Homo sapiens: one gene and its partners. The gene in region 1 interacts genetically with each later gene. Each region holds a gene or a part of one and is shown on either strand. Other genes may lie near its edges.

Region 1 (5,248 bases):
GTTGGCCAGGCTGGTTTCAAACTCCTGGCTTCAAGAGATCCACCCACCTCGGCCTTCCAAAGTGCTGGGATTACAGGTGTGAGCCACCACACCTGGCTGATGAATGGTTTCATTTTCTGTTTAGGAGAAAAGAAAAAATATTTACTGTATATCCTTGATAATGACTATATGTATACAAGTTATACTTTATCTCTTCAAGTTTTTTGCCTTTGATATAGGCAGGTGAACTGAAATATAGGTGAAACTAGTTGAACATGAAATCTTAAAATTGCAAACATTGTAGCAGTATTCCTTTCTGACCATACTTAATGAGATAACTATATAAACTGTGGTAGCATTAATAGCTGCCATCCTGCAGAGGGCACTGTAATTAAAGTCAGTCTTGATTGTTATATAAATATTTTACATAACTCCTTTAACCAAATAAGAAATACAAATATACTACTAATGTTTTTATTTGCATCAGAAAGAATCATCAAAACTGTATTCTAACAAAAGTCATTTTGTATCTGCTGAAGATTTTATTTATTCAAACACATACATTATTGAAACCAAAATATCTCAGTAAAATCCCTAAGAAGACAAATGCCATTCAACAGTTGTGAAAACTTGCAAGTGTGGCACCAAAACCTTAATTTTATATCTCTTAATATGTAACAGGCAGAATTTTATGAGGGTTTCACTTGCTAATTGAGTACATCCTTCATGGATTCTTGGCCCAGTATCCATGTAGGGAATTTAGGCTATTTATTAACACCCTCAAATTGTACATAAACTTAAAAAAATTTTGTGTATATGCATATGTGTGTTTTGGGGGGAAAGATCTGTGATTTTGAACAGATTATCAAGGAAGTCCCTGGCTTTAAAACTGGCAGGTAGAGAGGAGTGGGGCAGGAAGAGACTAAGAACTTTTGGCCTGTTTAGTGAGTAAAACATTATACCAGTTATTTGGAGTGTGCACAATTACATTCGGAAAAGGGTTAATGCAGTAGGTGTCTTGCTCAGATCAGATACTCAGTAAAAGATATGAGGAACAAATTCAGAAAGCTTAAAGAACTTGCCTCTGAGTCATAGCATTGAAGTGATAGAACTTCTAATTGGGGAAACTTGATAAGTTTAATGCCACTCCAAGATGGCTGTATTACATATTCAAATCTAAGAAATCTTCATATACAATGACAGAAATTAGGGTGAATAGGATTGGTTTAGGATAGAACTTCAACTGAGAATTAAGCCCTAAGGTTTTAAGGCATACATTGTAATGAATTCATTTATTTCCTATGCAGCTAGAAGGTACTAGCTGTGTACATTATTGGGAGATTTGCAATGTAGTCACTCATCGTTTTCTTTGGAGCTTAATTCTCTTGTGGAATCCTGATTGGGAAAGGCTGGTTTAGGAGGTTGGAGGGAAGGAAATACATGCAAGAGAAATGATTTGAACAACATAGAGATGGCAGTGCCCAAAACTGTTTAGAGAGCAGTAGGATAGGTTGCTAATTACAGCAGAGTACTTATATAGGAGTGATGTGAGGTAAAGCAGAAAAGTATAGGCAAGATAAAATTTTGGAGAGCTCTCAAGTATTAGGCTAAAAGGTAGTTCTTAGCCATTTAAGCCTAATTTTGGATTTAGGGGGTGGGTGGTGTATATACTGGGAAACATGACTGTTAAATACAGCACTTAGGACCATAAAAAATTGTTGTCTGAGACTATAAGAAATATGTAAACACATACAAGTATAAAAAATGTGTTATCAGCCTAGGCACTGAGATGCTTTTATGTCACATAGTTGAGAAATTCTTGTTTACTAAGATTGTGAAAAAGATTCTGTTAATGAAGTTGAAAAATATGTGGAAAATGTATTGGCCTTTACAGTTTTATTTGCTTTAATAGGACCTAAGAAAAGCTGGATTGCTGATTTTTGCTAATAAACAAGATGTTAAAGAATGCATGACTGTAGCAGAAATCTCCCAGTTTTTGAAGCTAACTTCTATTAAAGATCACCAGTGGCATATCCAGGCATGCTGTGCTCTAACTGGCGAGGGGTAAGACATCTTCCTCTTAAATGTTATCGAACATTTATTTTGCTTAGTAACATGTATATCTTCTTTAAACTCCTAAATATTTAAGGCTATTGTGTATAAAACATCGTAAGGGACAGACGTAAGCTGTAGTTCATGTCTATAATCAGAGACTTTTTAGGGTGGTTCTGTAAATAGTAAAACAATATAAACATAATACACATAAACCTACTGAACATGGAAGCATGTAGCTGTTATAATTGCTATAGGAGCTCAGAGAAATGGGAGTATCAGTGAGAGCTGGAGAAGTTAGGAAATACATTTTACGATGATAGTGGAACTGAAGACCTGACATGTGCCGAGCATGTCCTATGTCTGGAGTGTTTTCCATATAGTGCTTCATTTAATCCCCATAACAGTCCTACAGAGTAATTGTTTTTAAGTGATATTTTCTGCATAAAGAAGCTCAAATCAAAGAGAATTCATGTCTGAGACTACTTTGGGTTTATTTACTGTTGGAACTGATGCACTTAAACAAAAGAAGGATTGGGGGAATTGGAGAGAGTGTAGCAATGATGGTCCTTGGTTCTGGAATGATAGATGTTGGAAGAGAAGTGTGTGCCTATAGTAGAAGTTTGCCCTGTCTAGCACCCAGAGATGAAAGTATTTCAAGAAGGAAGTGGTGTGGTCAGCATTGTCAAATCTAAGGTCAAGGACCAGGAAGATGGAGAGGATGCCATTCAATTAACAACAAATGAGTACATTCAACCAGTTTGTCAGAACAAATTCTGTGCATTGAGAAAGTGGGCATGAGGTAAGTGTAGTTTAAAGAGGAGGTAGATTTTAGGAAGCAAAAATAGCTTTGTAAACTCTAGAGTGTGGCAAGAAGAGGAAGGAAAGATAAAATAGAGGAGGTTGGAAATAGGATAAAAAGCTAAAAGGAGGACCAAACTAAAGTACAATTTTTGTTGCTGTTTTTCCAAAATATGGTGCATCTGTATATATAGTCATGCACCCTATAATGATGTTTTGGTCAGTGATAGACCACATATATGACAGTGGTCCTATAAAATTAAAATACTATATGTTTACAATAACTGTTCTATTTTTAGATATGTTTCAGTACAAAAGTTCTTACTATTGGGTTATGGTTACCTACAGAATTTAGTACAGTAACATGCTGTATAGGTGTGTAGCCTGGGAGCAACAGGTTGTATGGCACAGAGCCTAGGTGCATACTAGGCTATACCATCTAGGTTTGTGTAAGTACACTCTGATGTTCACACAATGATGAAATCACCTGACACATTTCTCAGAATGTATCCCTGTCATTAAATGATGCATGATTGCATTTAAAAGCAGAGGAAAAGAGAAATAAGCGGTGAATTCTAAATAGAAGTCTTAAGTTTGGGGTTGAGGTTCTTGAGGTGTTAGGAAAGGACAAAAGCATGGGGTATAGATGAATTAGCTGAAGTGGGAGAAATTGTTTTCCTTTCAAGACCACGATGAAGGGTGAACCAAATATAACGAATTATTGAAGGCAAATCTTAATAGAAGGCACTGTTACTGACATTTGGAAGAGCATAATTAGAACCTTAAAAAAGGTTTTTTAATTAAAAAAAAACTGTTCATTAAAAAAATCACAGATAATACCAATTATCCATGTATTCATTTAAGTAAAAATATGTTAAGTATTTCTTTGTCAAATAGTCTAATATATATATCTTTGTCAAGCAAAAGCATGGATTTATAATATTTGTCAATAAAGACACGTCATCTAGGATTGACATAAGATTTAATTTATATACTTTGATAATTGTATGGAAAATGTATCATTAGTATAGATATTAACTCAATTTCATTTTAAAAAGAGGTAAAGCAATTTTGTTTTAAAAATAGGAAAATAATAGATGAGTTTGGTTTTGAGAGAAATGTTCTGTTTTTCTTTTATAGTTCAGCTACCTTGATCTAAATTATTGGTTTTAGTATTGATTAGCGTTTTGATTCAGTGGATTGGAGATCACAAACTTCAGTGTGTGGCTTCATTTGACTCCTACTTTTCCCATTTGCTAACATTGCCAACCCTGGGTTTCCTCTGTAACATTGGAAGGATTCTGATCTCAGTGTTGTAAAGATTAATTAAGAGAATGGATATTAAGTTAGTTTCTAGTTTGCTATTAGGTAACTACTGTTCATTTATCAGTTTGGAGTTAAACAATCTCTTCATCTATTATTTTTGTGTACTGTTTCCTATCAGTAGTTTAAAAGTAATGAATCTAGTCACAGGAGAAAAGTATGGGACAACCACCCCAAAACAACCATTTATTTACCTCATTGCCATCTTTTTTCTATTTGTGTCTTCTTTTACGTTATTAGACTCATACTTAACAAAACTCTGAATTGAAAAAAATTTAATATTGTAACATAGTTTTTTATGTCTGCAAAAGCTTGTCATAGATAATAGTTAATACTTATAACAGTTCTTCATTTTATTGCAACTTAATGTGTACAACCATTTCTCTCTTGCTCAACTTTTAGTTTCTTTTCCCACAGTGAACATCGTTTTCTATATTTTGGGTTATGTTCAATTACCAGTTGTTCAGTGATAACTGATGTTACTGATAAGAAATTTTATTGCCTTCAAAAGTTTTACATACTTACATTTTATAATATTTATGTAACATGTGTATACTTTGTTTTAATAACTACAATATATATTTTGTTGAATATCCTGCCATTTTTCATTTATATCATGAGCATTTTATCCTATTATAAAATGGTTTTATTTCCTCCATTTCCTGGTGATGAGAATTATGAAATCATTTTTTAAAGGAAAATTTTAAATATTTCATCATACAAATGTCTTGTAATTTATTTTTTTCTGTATTTTTAGACAAAAATTATTTTCCTATTAAAAGTACTTTAATGAACAGTTTTGTATGTAAGTCTATGTTTATGTCTGATTTTCTTTTTTGGGATACATTTCTAGAAGTAGAAAAAAGGATGCAGAGTATTGATATTTTAAATATTTTTGATACGTATTGCCAGATATATTTTTGACATATGTTGCTTTCTGTGGGCACTCATTGCATAATTATAAAGCTTTTTTAAAGTGTCAGACAGCGTTCTGGGTGCTAGAGATATAACTGAACCAAAAGAGCACAGATGTATTAGCTGGGTGTGGTGGCACACGCCTGTAGTCCCTGCTGCTGGGGAAGCTGAGGTGGGG
Region 2 (4,589 bases), on another chromosome or scaffold:
GGTCTTTAGATCTCTCCTCCCTCCCTCCTTCCCAAAAACATACACAACACCAGCTTGGATACAGAGCAGCAGAGCAAGGCAGTTCTGTGAAGTTTGTCCCTGGCAGCCCTTAGCAGTGAAGCACTCAGCTGGGAATTGGACACAGCACAGGCAAAAAGGCTTATGGGCAGGAAGAGCAAACACCAGCTAAAGCAGTGCTGCTTCATGACTAGAATAAAAATACAGCCTGCAACTTACTCAGCCTGACAACTCTGAGGTGTGATTTTTGACTATGTTTACTTTGTTGGGAATTCTCATAATTTGAAATTTTGTATAAAAGGTGAATTTATGTTAATAATTTTATATGGCACTTTGTTAAAAGGTTGATTGAGGGAGGATTAAATATTTTAAAAATATAGTTATTTGAAATTTCATGTAACCTCCATAGTAAGTTCCCATTAAATCTTTTCTTTCCAGTCTGTTTCCTTTATGAGCTTACTCTATCCAAGTGGTGTCCTGATACCTAGTTTTTCATTGTAGAAATATACCCAAAACTAATTATTTTAATGTCTGGTCATATTACTACAATTCGCTTCTTTGTTCTTTAGTACTTAGTACTTTTAGATTTGGGGCTTACCTGATTTGTCTTTAGCCAGGCAGTGAAATCAATTTCACTCTTTCCTGTTGTACTTTATCTTTTAAAAAAAAAAAATCTCAGTATAGTTCTGATTAAAATTTCCTTTCTGAGTCCTAAATGCTTTAAATCTTCTTTTCCCATTCTTTTTACTTCTCCTATCCATAGTTACAAGTTCTTACGCATGACATATCTCTTGGCTGATAAGTTTAACTGCTTAAGCACCTGTTTATGTTTCATTTTTAACATAGCCAGTTACTATTATGCTTGGATATACACAATGAGGGAGTTTGTGGCTTTGTTTTCCCTTTCCACAGACGTCTCTAATCTCCTTTATTAAATGCTTTGTATTTCTACTAATTAGTATACATAGCTAAACTTTTTGTTTTTGTTTTTTGAGACATAGTAGTCTTACTCTGTTGCCCAGACTGGAGTGCAGTGGTGCAATCACGGCTCACTGCAGCCTCGGCCTCCCCAGCTCAAGCAGTCCTCCTGCCTCAGCCTTCCAAGTAGCTGGGACTATAGGCATGGACCACTACACCTGGCTAATTTTTTATTTTTTAGAAATGAGGTCCCACTGTCTTGCCCAGGCTGGTCTCAAACACCTGGGCTCAAACAGTTCTCCTGCCTTTGCTACCAAAGCGCTGAGTCACACCTGGCCACACAGCTCAACTTTAACTCTCCTGTTTTTCCCCTTTAAGTTTTTTCTTTAAATTAGGGTTGACAAACTTTCACTAAAGGACTTGAAAGTATTTTAGACATTGTAGGCCATAAGATCTCAGTTGCCACTAATCAGCTCTGCCCTTGTAGTGAAAAAGCAGCCATAGGTAATATGCAACTTCATGCATTTGTCTGGGTTTCAATAAAACTCTTATTTATGGACACTGAACTTTAAATCTCATTTTTCCACATTTGTATGTCTTCCTTTGATCCCCTCCTCCCCCATTGCACTATAAAAGCCATTCTTGGCTTATGTGCCATAGTTTGTCAACCCCTGCTTTAAATGCAGTCTTTGATATGCTTCTGTTGCCTAACCCAGTTACTCACTATTATTACCATAATCTGTGTTGCTAATTACGGAGATCTTTTGCACCTTGCAGCAGGAGACAAGGATGTTCAATAATTTCAGAGCTAAACTCAAAGTATTAAATGCCAGCCTGCTTTGGGGCTTCAGAGATTTTTAAATTCATTGATTTTAAGGGGCATTTGATTTTAAGAGGTGTTTGACAAGAACAGATTTTAAGAGGTATTTGGCAAAAGTTGCTTAGAAGAAAATTATTTGCAAATCATATGCCGTATTCCATTTGTTAGTTGAGTAGATGATAATGGGAATGATACTTATTCAGCATAACATTTGTCTAACTCTTGTAATTGACAGAGTACTTCCACACACATGATCTCACCTGGTCTTCACCATGTGTACTAAGGATAAAGATAGTACAAGTTTAGTATCCCTTATCTAAGTGTTTGGGACCAGGATTGTGTTGCATTTTTTATTTTTATTTTTTTTCTGATTTCGGAATATTTGCATATACATAAGGCAATATCATGGGGATGGGACCCAAGTCTGAACATGAAATTAATTTATGTTTTACATATACCTTATAATATAGCCAGATGGCATCATTATACAGTATTTTTACTAGTTTTGTGCATGAAGTAAAGTTTGTATTAAGCATTTAATGTGTGGAATTTTCCACTTGTGGCATCATATTAGCATTCAAAAAGTTGCAGATTTTGGAGCATTGTGGATTTTGGATTTTCAGATTGGGGTGCTCAACTTGTGTGTTATCCTCACTCTTGTGTGTGAGGGTAACACTTGCATGTTACCCTTATCTAAAGAGGATATATCATAGAGGTTAAGTGACTTGCTTGTGTCCACTAATTATGCAGTGACAGAACCGAGGCTTCTTGTCCATTGAACACTCACAGATTTTAGAAATGAAAAGCATGATATCATCACATTTAATTTTATCATTTTATAAAAGAGAACCCAAGACCCACAGAGCCAGCTCTCAGGAACCTTCATCTCCCAGTTACTAGGCCAGTGTACTTTCTCTTAGGGTCTGTCTCACCTAGAAATAACTAAATTGAAATTTGTTAATATTGTTGTATATAGATACTTTTATTTTAATTTTTTCTTAATATCTTAAAAAGTATAAAGTAAAATGTTTAAGTGCCTGTTAGTATATTTTATTAGTCAACAATGGTTCAAAGCTAAAACTCTTGGATTTTAGTACATGTGGAATAAAAGCAAATCTAACCTTTGTTCCTTTGCAGCACCAGCATTGGATGTTGATTGGCAGAGCAACAACACCTTTGCTTCTTGTAGTACAGATATGTGCATTCATGTCTGTAAATTAGGACAAGACAGACCTATTAAAACATTCCAAGGACATACGGTAAGAAACCTTTTTTCCACATTAAAGTGGTCATGATTAACAAGTAATGTTTCAGAATAGTTTTAAAGTATGTATGTTTAATATTCAAGTAGCTACCCAGTCTATACAATGAAAATGTGAATATTTACTATTATTTTTAGAATGAAGTAAATGCTATCAAATGGGACCCAACTGGCAATCTCTTGGCCTCCTGTTCTGACGACATGACTTTAAAGGTAATTTGCTTAGTAGGGAGAAATGGGTTGGCGGTGTCACACAGTATGGTTGCTCTGGCCATTTTAAGACCATTTAGAATGTCTGTCTTACATGGAGTGTTTGTACCTGCATGAAAACTCCAACATTTTAAATGGCTAACCATTGTTTTTTAAATTTTATAGTTTCTTTTCTGAAATACATAAAACTATTTGAATGTAGCAAATTATATTAAAATGATGGCTTGTGATACAATGAGACATATGATACCCTATTAGTTAGGGCTCTCCAGAGAAACAGAACCAATAAGAAGATGGATGGATGGATGGATGGATGGATGGATGGATGAGAGATTTACTGTGAGAAATTGACTCACGTGATTATAGAGGCTGAGAAGTCCCACAGTCTGCTGTCTACAAGCTGGAGACCCATGAAAGATGGAGGTGTGGTTCCATTCCAGGGCCAGAGAAGGAGTGCCAATGGTGTAAGTCCCAGTCCAAGAGCAGAAGACCAATATACCAACTCAGCAGTCAGGCTGAGGCAGAGAATTCTTGCTTCCTTGGCGGTTTTGTTCTGTTTAGAGCCTCACTGGACTGAGTGATGCCCCCCCCGCCGCCCATTGGGGAGGGTGGCAGTCTGCTTTTCTCAGTCAGCTAAGTTAAATGCCTGTCTCAACTGGGAACACCCTCAGACACAGCCGGAAATAATGTCTCACCAAATATCTGTACCCTGTGACTCAGTCAAGAAGACAGATAAAATTAGACATCACCAATAGTAAGAAAGGTCATGCTATAAATTGTCTTCACCATTAGAAAGTCATATGTTGAGGCAATTAAAGTTTATTTGCAATTAAAGTTTATTTGCATATGTAAAGATTTGACTTAATAAGTACTCAAAATCTTTGTAGCATTCATGGATTTGATTGGAATTCTTTGCGTTGTATTAATTTGATTTTGCTGTGGTATGACTATGTATCACCATTGCTGGGAAACTGATACATAGCAGAGAATCTCTCAGTGAGCGAGCCTAGTTGACATACCAACATCCACATCTCAACATGGATCTCTGTTTTTCTTGTTGTATGACTAAAAGCAAAACTGCTGTCTCGCACCTAAGCACACCAGATTCCTCATTTGGGGAAAAAAGCATTTGGAGATAAAGAACAACGTAATACTTATTTCCAAAATAAATGAAGCTTTGAGCCCTCTCCTGCAACAGCTAACCCTCTACTGAAAACAGTTTTATCCTTGACTTTGCAGTACCAAGGACTGCAGATGTGATGACCGTTACAGATATGAAAATCATGAGGGAAAACTGATTTTCCTGCTACTATGAACAGATTAAATTTAACTTTGCGAAACTTGTGAGGTTTTCTCCTTTAA
Region 3 (4,589 bases), on another chromosome or scaffold:
TGCCCAAGATATTCCTTAGAAAGATGATTCCATTATTACATAAATTTAAGAGAAGGTATACGGTGTATATCTATTCTGAATGTGGAGGATAGTATATATTCATCCTAAATTATCTATGAAGAATTGCAATGTTGGTAAAGAATTATAGAACTAGAAAGTCATGGGGTATACCTCTCTGCTCCAAAATGTGCCCTTAACAGTTTGCTACTGTTGAGTATTCAGCCATAGGGTTCTTCTCTATTCCATTGTCATTTAACCTTAGCAGTTTCACCTTTTTAGAAAAATGGTTTGTCATATTTCTTTATGTTGCTTCCTGTTTACTTTCTTATTTACTAATGCTGTCTTGTTTAGTAATTTAAAAAAATGCAGAAATGCATTTTATTTTAAAGTAATTCTTTTTTCTTTAACATTTAACTCTGATTTTTCTAATTATTCTTTTTTATTTTTCCATTAGAGTGACCTCAGTTCTGTGGTAATTTGATTTTTTATTATAAATTTTTATACTTTTCTTACTCACCACTTTTTGACTCTGCCTAATTAATCTCTCTTTACAAAACATAGTGGAAAAACAGTTAGTTGTGAATACCACCTATGTGACTTCAGAAAGATTATATATAATTTTATGTACTTTTTAATTATATCAATTTTCTATTCCGTGGGGCAAAATTAGCTCAAAAGTTAAATTGTCATACTGAAACAATTCTCATTTTCAGTGTTTCTTCTTTAGATTTTTTTTTTAAAGAGGTATGTTACCTTGTGTCAAATGGCCTTGTGATTTTCATCATCTTACTGTAAAATACCCGATTATCCTAGCCTTCAGTTCTTTGAGTAGACTGTATAATCGAAATTCATTTTCAGATGCACAGTGGTTTTAGTTTTAAGTCTGGGTCAGGTGATGATGGCCGCTTGACAAAATGAAACAGAAGAAAAGCAAATTTTCCCAACTTGGCTAAAATTTTGTTTTCAAAGTTATATTTACAATAAGCAGCATTTGCTTATATCACATTACATATGTAATAACATCAACTGCCTTAGCACTGAATTCTTAATTTTTAAAATATCAAATTGCTTTACACTAACTGTTCAAACTAACTTGATTTTCCATTATGCTGCTTGTTTTTCTTTCGTTTTATCTAAGCTCTTCCTAAATTTATGCAGAAAATTGCAGTTTTTAAATTGAAATGTGGGTCTGTGGTTATTTTTTTAAAAGCAATGGATTGATGGGATATATGTACTTTTTTTTAGAACCAGTAACCAAAAAATGCCATTAAATGATGCATTTTTTTAAACTGATAAATCATTTTATTTCTATTTTCATTTGAACACATGTCCCAAAAACTAAAGAATCTGTTTTATTTTAGATAATAGTACATTATATTATAACTTAATCATTATATTTTTGCAAATGATTTTCATTTTCTTGGTGTTAGTGTTTAAAAAGCTCAGCCAGGCGCGGTGGCTCATGCCTGTAATCTCAGCACTTTGGGAGGCCGAGGCGAGCGGATCACGAGGTCAGGAGTTTGAGACCAGCCTGGCCAACATGGTGAAACCTCATCTCTATAAAAAATACAAAAATTAGCCAGGCATGGTGGCACTTGCCCGTAATCCCAGTTACTTGAGAGGCTGAGGCAGGAGAATCACTTGAACTCAGGAGGCAGAGGTTGCAGTGAGCTGAGATCGCACCACTGCACTCCTGCCTGGGTGACAGAGTGAAACTTCGTCTCAAAATAAATAAAAATACAAAAATTTAGCTGGGCATGGTGGCACTGCCTGTAGTCCCAGCTACTAGGGAGGCTGAGGCAGGAGAATCGCTTGAACCTGGGAGGTGGAGGTTGCAGTGAGAGGAGATCTTGCCACTGCATTCTACTCTGGGCAACAGAGCAAGACTCCATCTTGTGGGGGTTGGGGGAAGCTCATAGGCCAGGCACAGTGGCTCACACCTCTAATCCCAGCACTTTGGGAGGCCGAGGTGGGTGGATCACTTGAGGTCAGGAGTTCTAGACCAGCCTGGCCAACATGGTGAAACCCTGTCTCTACTAAAAATACAAAAATTAGCTCAGTATGATATTGCGCGCCTATAATCCCAGCTACTCGGGAGGCTGAGGCAGGAGAATCCCTTGAACCCGGGAGGCGGAGGTTGCAGTGTACCAAGATCACCCCACCACACTCCAGCCTGGGTGACAGAATGAGACTGTCTCAAAAAAATAAAAAGCTCTTAAGTGGCAAATTTTTCTGGTCATAGTTGATTTTATGTTATTTATGTGTAGTAAACATATTACTATGAAACTTTTGAAAAAAATTATTGAATACCCTTAGTGTATCATTTTTCATGTAGGTTTGTTTCAAAGATAAATCAAGTTAGTCTGTTATCCTTCAATTACATGAAGGAAAATAATAACCAAATAGCATAAAATAATGTTTAGCATAATTAGGGGAATTAATTTATCTAAATTTATCTAATTATCTAATTTATCTAATTATTAAAATTACCTACTGGCAAATATTGCTAAATAGCATCAGCTTTAAAATCTGTCACTGAGGCTACAAAATACCTTTTGCCTGATTTAAAAGCTCTACGATGGTGAAGTATAATCCACATATTCTTTTTTTAGCCCTCAATATACATTTAAAATGAACTAAGAAATCACTAATGACCACTCGCAAATTGCTTTAATTTAAAAAGTTAAATCCTTCAAGATTACAAAATAGATTATTCATAGTATTAGTGGTCACTACACTATCTAAATTGGCATTAATATGACAATCAAAGTTATACTGCCATATTATAATGAAGACTTAATTATCTTAACGTAATACTGAAATTATAGGAGCATAGGTATATTCATCATACTAAAGCACATTTTAATATTTTAATACCTAATGAAAAGAAAGAGTATTTGTAAATGAAATTCCAGTTAAGTATTTTGGGATGTTAAGACAAAATATAGTTATCCTCCATCCATTGTTTGACAAGGTATCAGTTGACTAACACTTGACTTTGCCCCTGTTAATTATGATAGGGTGAAGATTTCTTTTCTTGCATTAATTGTGGTAACTTTGATTTGCAGGCATGAACTAATCACATTTGTGGTTAATATTTTTTCTTCATATAGATAAGATATTTTTGTTGAGATAAATATTTTAAATGCCACCACACCTTGGTGGATATTTTTTTCATATCCTCAGACTGATGAAGTATTTCTGGAAGCCCAGATTCAGAATATGACAACCTCACCTATGTTTATGGAGAAGGTTTCACTGGAGCCATCTATTATGTACAATGTAACAGAATTAAATTCAGTCAGCCAAGCTGGAGAATGGTAAATATTAATTTATGAAGTCTTTATCCTTGTTTTGAAAGATACATGTTTTTCTAAACATCCATTGCTCTTCAGTGGGTTTTTTTTTAATAGACTTTTTTTAAAGAATTTGAGGTTCATAGAAAAATTCATCAGAAAGTAGAGTTTCCACATACCCTCTTCCACTCCTCACAGTTTCTCTTGTTATTTACGTCTTGTTTTTTATTTTATTTTTATTTTTATTTATTTATTTATTTATTTATTTTTTGAAAGAGTCCAGCTCTATGCAGTGGCATGATCTTGATCTAGGCTCACTGTAACCTCCACCTCCCAGGTTCAAGCAATTTTGGTGCATCAGCCTCCCAAGCTGCTGGGATTACAGGTGCATGCCACCACGCTTGGTTAATTTTTTTATTTTTAGTAGAGATGGGGTTTCACCATATTGGCCAGGCTGGTCTTCAGCTCCTGACCTCAAGCGATCTGCCCACCTTATCCTCCCAAAGTGCTGTCCTTACAGGCGTGAGCCACTGTGCCTGGCCTACATCTTGTTTTAATGTGGTACATTTACTACAATTGATGAAATGATATTGACACTGATTACTAACTAATGTCTATAATTTACATTAGAATTCACACTTTTTGTTGTATGTTTTATTGTTTTTGGTTTTTGGTTTGTTTTGTTTTAAGAGACAGGTCTCATTAATGTTGCCCAGGCTGAAGTCAAATTTCTGGACTCAAACGATCTCCCAAGTATCTGGGACTATAGTCAAGCACTGTAGGTTTTGACAAATATATAACATGTATCCACCATTACTATATTATGCAAAATAGTTTCACTTTCCAAAAACTCTCCTGTGCTCCATCTTCATCCCTCCATTACATAAAAATAAAGATCCTAGCCCTTTTAATTTCATGTTTTACTATTCAAAGCATTTGGTCTTTTAAGTCTCATAAAAATCCAGTGAGGTAAATATGAATCCTATCATTGCTATCCTGCAAATAATAAAATGGAGGAATGTGAAGGAATGGTAGAGAAGTTAAAAAGAGTAAGGGTGAATGTGGGTTTAAAAAAAGAAATACTCTCTCAACATCAAAAGAAAAGGACATAGGAATAGATGGTTTAATACTTTGTGAAAAGGAAATACATACACCTTTCCACAGCTAATTTAAAAGAGGAAGAATAAATGTAAAGTTGACAATAATACAGATAAGAAAGTAATAGGCTGGGTGTGGTGGCTCATGCCTGTAATCCTAACCCTTTGGAAGGCTGAGGCCAGAGGATTGCTTGAA
Region 4 (4,589 bases), on another chromosome or scaffold:
GACAGGTTTGTGGATTTTGATAACTTGTTTTTCAGATTAGTCATATTTAAATTTAAGATTTAAACCGTAATATGAAATAGTTTATTGTAGCTTCAATCAATATGTTTTTAAAAATTGTATACTTCTGACATATAATTAAATATTGGCTGTAAAGTTTACACACTACTTTTCTCTCTGTGTGTGTGCATTCCTTTTGTAAATATTTAAGAGAATCTTAAGAAATTTTAGCTGGTTTTAAAATACAATTTTAATCTGTAGCAGTTTAGACAGGGGGCTGTCCTTTATGTAGTAGGATGCCTAATGGGCTTTCCACCCCAACAAAAATGTCTCCAGAAATTGCCAGATGTCCCCTGGAGGGTAAAAATCACCCCTGGCTGAGAACCACAGATTCAGAATATTGTTTCTCAGTGGAGATGCTCTTGTCAGGACAATTCTTTGCTGTCGCAGTGCAGACCACTTAACTTCCTTAGTGTAAAGGCCACTCAGTACTAGCAGTGCTCACCAGGCACTGTGACAATTAAAAATACTCTGCTCAATTTTGAATGCTCCCAATTGAGAATCATAAATACAGGTAATAGTTATGCTGGCACATGTCTAGATTTTAGTGAACACCGTAATGTTTCAGGGTACATAGTTTAATAAAACTATTTCTACAAACAGCGTTTTGTCTATGTTAGGCCCTATTGTAAGGGTGTTTTCTTTCTCTGTGTGTATTCCTAAACTTCATTTTGGTCATTCTCAAATTAGGGAAGATTTTTCATTCCATGTAGCCCTGTTTTTTCTGTTTGATATTCTCTTTAGTCCTTTTGACCCACAAGTTTTGTCAGGTGTCCAGATTTGCAGTTAACTGGAAGAAAAATGGAAGAGTAATCTTCCCTCTTTAAAAATAAAATAGAAATCTTTGCATATGACTTATATAGCAACTAACTCTTCAGAGAATCCCAAAATTCATAGTATAGTTATAGGCACAAATAACTTTAAAAAAAAAACTGAATTGTTTTTGAGACAGCATCTCACTGTCACCCAGGCTCTGGAGTGCGCTGGCATGATCATGGCTCACTGTAGACTTGGCCTCCTGGGCTCAAGTGATCCTCCCACCTCAGTCTCCCAAGTAGCTGGGACTATAGGTGCAAGCCGCCATGCCTGGCTAATTTTTAAATTTTCTGTAGAGATGGGGTCTCACTGTGTTGCTCAAGCTGGTCTTGATCTCCCGGGCTCAAGCGGTCCTCCTGCCCTAGCCTCTCAAAGTGCTAGGATCACAGGCATGAGCCACCACATGTGGCAGCACAAATTTTTTTGGTTTACCTTTATTTATACTTTTAATTTTTTTTTTGATGTGGAGTCTCGCTCTGTCACCCAGGCTGGAGTGTGGTGGCACAATCTCGGCTCACTGCAACCTCCACCTCCTGGGTTCAAGCGATTCTCATGCCTCAACCTCCCAAATAGCTGGGTGTACAGGTGTGTGCCATGACTTGTGGCTAACTTTTGATTTAAATTTTTTTTTTTTTTTTTGAGGTGGAATCTTGCTCTGTCGCCCAGACTGGAATGCAGTGGTGCAGTCTCAGCTCACTGCAACCTCTGCCTTTCAGGTTCAAGCAGTTCTCCTGCCTCACCCTCCTGAGTAGCTGGGATTACAGGTGTACACCACCACACTCGGCTAATTTGTGTATTTTTAGTAAAGACGGGGTTTCGCCATGTTGGCCTGGTTGGTCTTGAACTCCTGACCTCAAGTGATCCACCCACTTCAGCCTCCCAAAGTGCTGGGATTACAGGTGTGAGCCACCGCATCTGGCCTATCTTGATTTATTTATAATGACTATCTACAGAAACAACTCATAGTCTGTGGGGTTTTCTTAGTGTATTTTCAGGAGTCAAAAATCTAAACTTTAAAAAAATCTGTAAATTTAAGGTAGATGCTGACTGAATGTGCTGTATTTTTCTTTTTAAACAGGAATATTAAGAAAATCACTTTGCCAAGTATTGGTCGATTTCGTCACTTTACCAATGAAACTTTGCTAGATATTTTATTTTATAACAGCCCCACCTACTGTCAGACAATTGTGGAAAAAGTAGGAATGGAGATAAACCATCTGCATGCACTCTTTATGAGTCGGAACCCAGACTTCAAAGGAGGTGTCTCTGTTGCTGGTCACAGTTTAGGTAAAACTGTCAAATATTCACATTTTAAATACAATTTTTGTTGAGTCATAACTGCTTTCAGTGTAGGTGATATTGTTAGTGCAAAATTAAGAATTACAGATTTTAAGTTTCAGAAAAGGTAGAAATGAATGCTCTGAGTTTAGATTCTGCCTTTTCTATATTCACCTCTAGTATTACCTAGGGAATGCTATGTATTTTACTTTATTCTGCTGTTTGATAAAATAATTAATTATCAGGTCTTGAATAACATGTAACTTCTGTATGACTTTTGACTATAGACAGTGAAAAAAGAATTAGTGTTATAAAAGTACCTACTACATTATAAGGCAAAATGTTTCTTTTTCATAGGTTCTTTAATATTGTTTGACATCCTGTCTAATCAAAAAGATTTGAATTTATCAAAGTGCCCTGGACCTCTTGCTGTTGCTAATGGAGTTGTGAAGCAGCTACATTTTCAGGAAAAGCAGGTACGTCTGTACGTGGCCAATTAACATTTCGATTTAGAGTCTATGGAGCTGAACAATTTTCAAAAGTCTGAACTGTTTCTTGAAACTTTTGTTTGTTTGTTTGTTTGTTTGTTTGTTTTAACTGAGCCTCATTGGTTGCTTGGGCTAGTCTTGAGTTCCCTCCTGGCCTCAAGCGATCCTCCTGCCTTGGCTTCCCAAAGTGCTGGCATCAATAACTCTTCAGAGAATCCCCAAATTCAGAGTACAGTTATAGGCCCAAATATAATAGCTTCCGTGTCCAGCCCTGAAACTGGTTTTACATATTAAAGTACACCGAGGTTTAGAAATGGAATGGAATCATATAGCTCATTATTTGAGTTTCTCACTCTTCTTCTTTATGGGTTATAAATTTAAATGTGAAAGTTTGTGATTTTTAAAAATGTAAATTATAGGAAATGGAGACTTGAGTGATTTATTAAATTTATATACTTTTCAGAATATTCAATTTTTTTTTTTTTTTGAGGCGGAGTTTCACTTTTGTCACCCAGGTTAGAGTGCAATGGTGTGATCTCGGCTCACTGCAACCTCCGCCTTTCGGTTTCAAGCGATTCTCCTGCCTCAGCCTCCCGAGTAGTTGGGATTACAGGCGCCTGCCACCAAGCTGAGCTAATTTTTGTGTTTTTAGTAGAGACAGGGTTTCATCATGTTGGCCAGGCTGGTCTTCAACTCCTGACCTCAGGTGATGCACCTGCCTCAGCCTCCCAAAGTGCTGGGATTACAGGCGTGAGCCACTGGGCCTGGCCAGAATATTCAAACTTTGAATGGCAAAGTACTGTGCCTAAAATTATGATTTCTGTGTAAAGCAAAATTGTTTGAGAGTTTTCGTAGATCAGCAGTCATTATATGGGAGTTTTTCTGAGCTTGTAATGTTTTTCATACTTTTTTTTTTAAAGATGCCTGAAGAGCCAAAGCTGACTTTGGATGAGTCGTATGACCTTGTTGTTGAAAATAAAGAAGTCCTAACTTTGCAAGAAACTCTGGAAGCACTTAGCCTCTCTGAATATTTTAGCACTTTTGAAAAGGAAAAGATTGATATGGAGTCCCTGGTACTGATCATAGTTTGCTTCATTTTGTTTGAAATTGTTTTTCTTGTGTAGATTGAAAATTAAGAATAAACATTTTCGTATCAAAATACACTCCAGAGTAGACAAAGACTGAAATGTTTTAAAAAATTGAAAAACACAGAAGAATATTTTTTTATAATCTGAAAGGCTTTTCTGAGTATGATGCAAAATCCAGAAGCCATCAAAGAAAAAAATTGTATAACAGTAGACACCATAAACAACATCTAAAGGCCAGTGATACATTTGCAACACACATTATAGACAGAGGGCTTACTTCATTGATTTTCAAAGCTTCTACAAATCAGTTACAGAAAGACCATCACATCAGTGTGATATGTAAATAGGCAAAGAATATAAACATGATTTACAGAAAAGGAAATAACAAATGGTGTCTTCGCATATGAAAACTCATAAGAGAAATGGAAATTGAAAGTACAATGGGATTTTTTTTAACTTACCAGTTTGAAAAAATAGGAAGTTTGAAAATATGCTATGTGGCCAGGGTGAAGGGAACTAGGCATTGTTATATATTGTTGGTCAGACTGTAAAATATTACAAACTCTTTGGAAGGCAGTTTGGCAATATCTTTAAGAATATAAAAATTACCCTTTGCTTCATCAGTTTCATTGCCAGGAATATTTCCTATAGAGAAATATTCAAACAAGAATTATCTACAAGGATACTCACAGCAGTGTTTGCAAGGTAACAAAACATTAGAGACACCATTGGTGTTGAGGAGTAGGGTGCTAGTGAAATCATTTATGGTGCATCCGCATAACGGAGTACCCTACAGCTGTTGAATGAATGATGCAGTGTCAGAGATACCCGTCTCTAAGGTACATTTACATGAAGAGAGCAG

Evidence for each region. A genetic interaction does not mean that the proteins touch.
Region 2: changes in ARL5A (region 1) and TBL1XR1 together harm fitness more than expected from each alone (negative genetic interaction), as found in Homo sapiens cells (one large-scale study listed by BioGRID).
Region 3: changes in ARL5A (region 1) and TRAPPC13 together harm fitness more than expected from each alone (negative genetic interaction), as found in Homo sapiens cells (one large-scale study listed by BioGRID).
Region 4: changes in ARL5A (region 1) and SEC23IP together harm fitness more than expected from each alone (negative genetic interaction), as found in Homo sapiens cells (one large-scale study listed by BioGRID).

What each region holds. Positions count from the first base shown.
Region 1 is NC_000002.12:151,803,616-151,808,863, reverse strand, and holds part of ARL5A (ADP-ribosylation factor-like protein 5A), read left to right. Parts: intron 1-1,891; coding exon 1,892-2,043; intron 2,044-5,248. UniProt on the Homo sapiens protein: Lacks ADP-ribosylation enhancing activity.
Region 2 is NC_000003.12:177,036,739-177,041,327, reverse strand, and holds part of TBL1XR1 (F-box-like/WD repeat-containing protein TBL1XR1), read left to right. Parts: intron 1-2,877; exon of another isoform or gene 2,878-2,893; coding exon 2,894-3,015; intron 3,016-3,155; coding exon 3,156-3,230; intron 3,231-3,583; exon of another isoform or gene 3,584-3,923; intron 3,924-4,589. UniProt on the Homo sapiens protein: F-box-like protein involved in the recruitment of the ubiquitin/19S proteasome complex to nuclear receptor-regulated transcription units. Plays an essential role in transcription activation mediated by nuclear receptors.
Region 3 is NC_000005.10:65,655,182-65,659,770, forward strand, and holds part of TRAPPC13 (trafficking protein particle complex subunit 13), read left to right. Parts: intron 1-454; coding exon 455-472; intron 473-3,186; coding exon 3,187-3,320; intron 3,321-4,589.
Region 4 is NC_000010.11:119,915,885-119,920,473, forward strand, and holds part of SEC23IP (SEC23-interacting protein), read left to right. Parts: coding exon 1-5; intron 6-1,951; coding exon 1,952-2,160; intron 2,161-2,508; coding exon 2,509-2,627; intron 2,628-3,559; coding exon 3,560-3,712; intron 3,713-4,589. UniProt on the Homo sapiens protein: Plays a role in the organization of endoplasmic reticulum exit sites. Specifically binds to phosphatidylinositol 3-phosphate (PI(3)P), phosphatidylinositol 4-phosphate (PI(4)P) and phosphatidylinositol 5-phosphate (PI(5)P).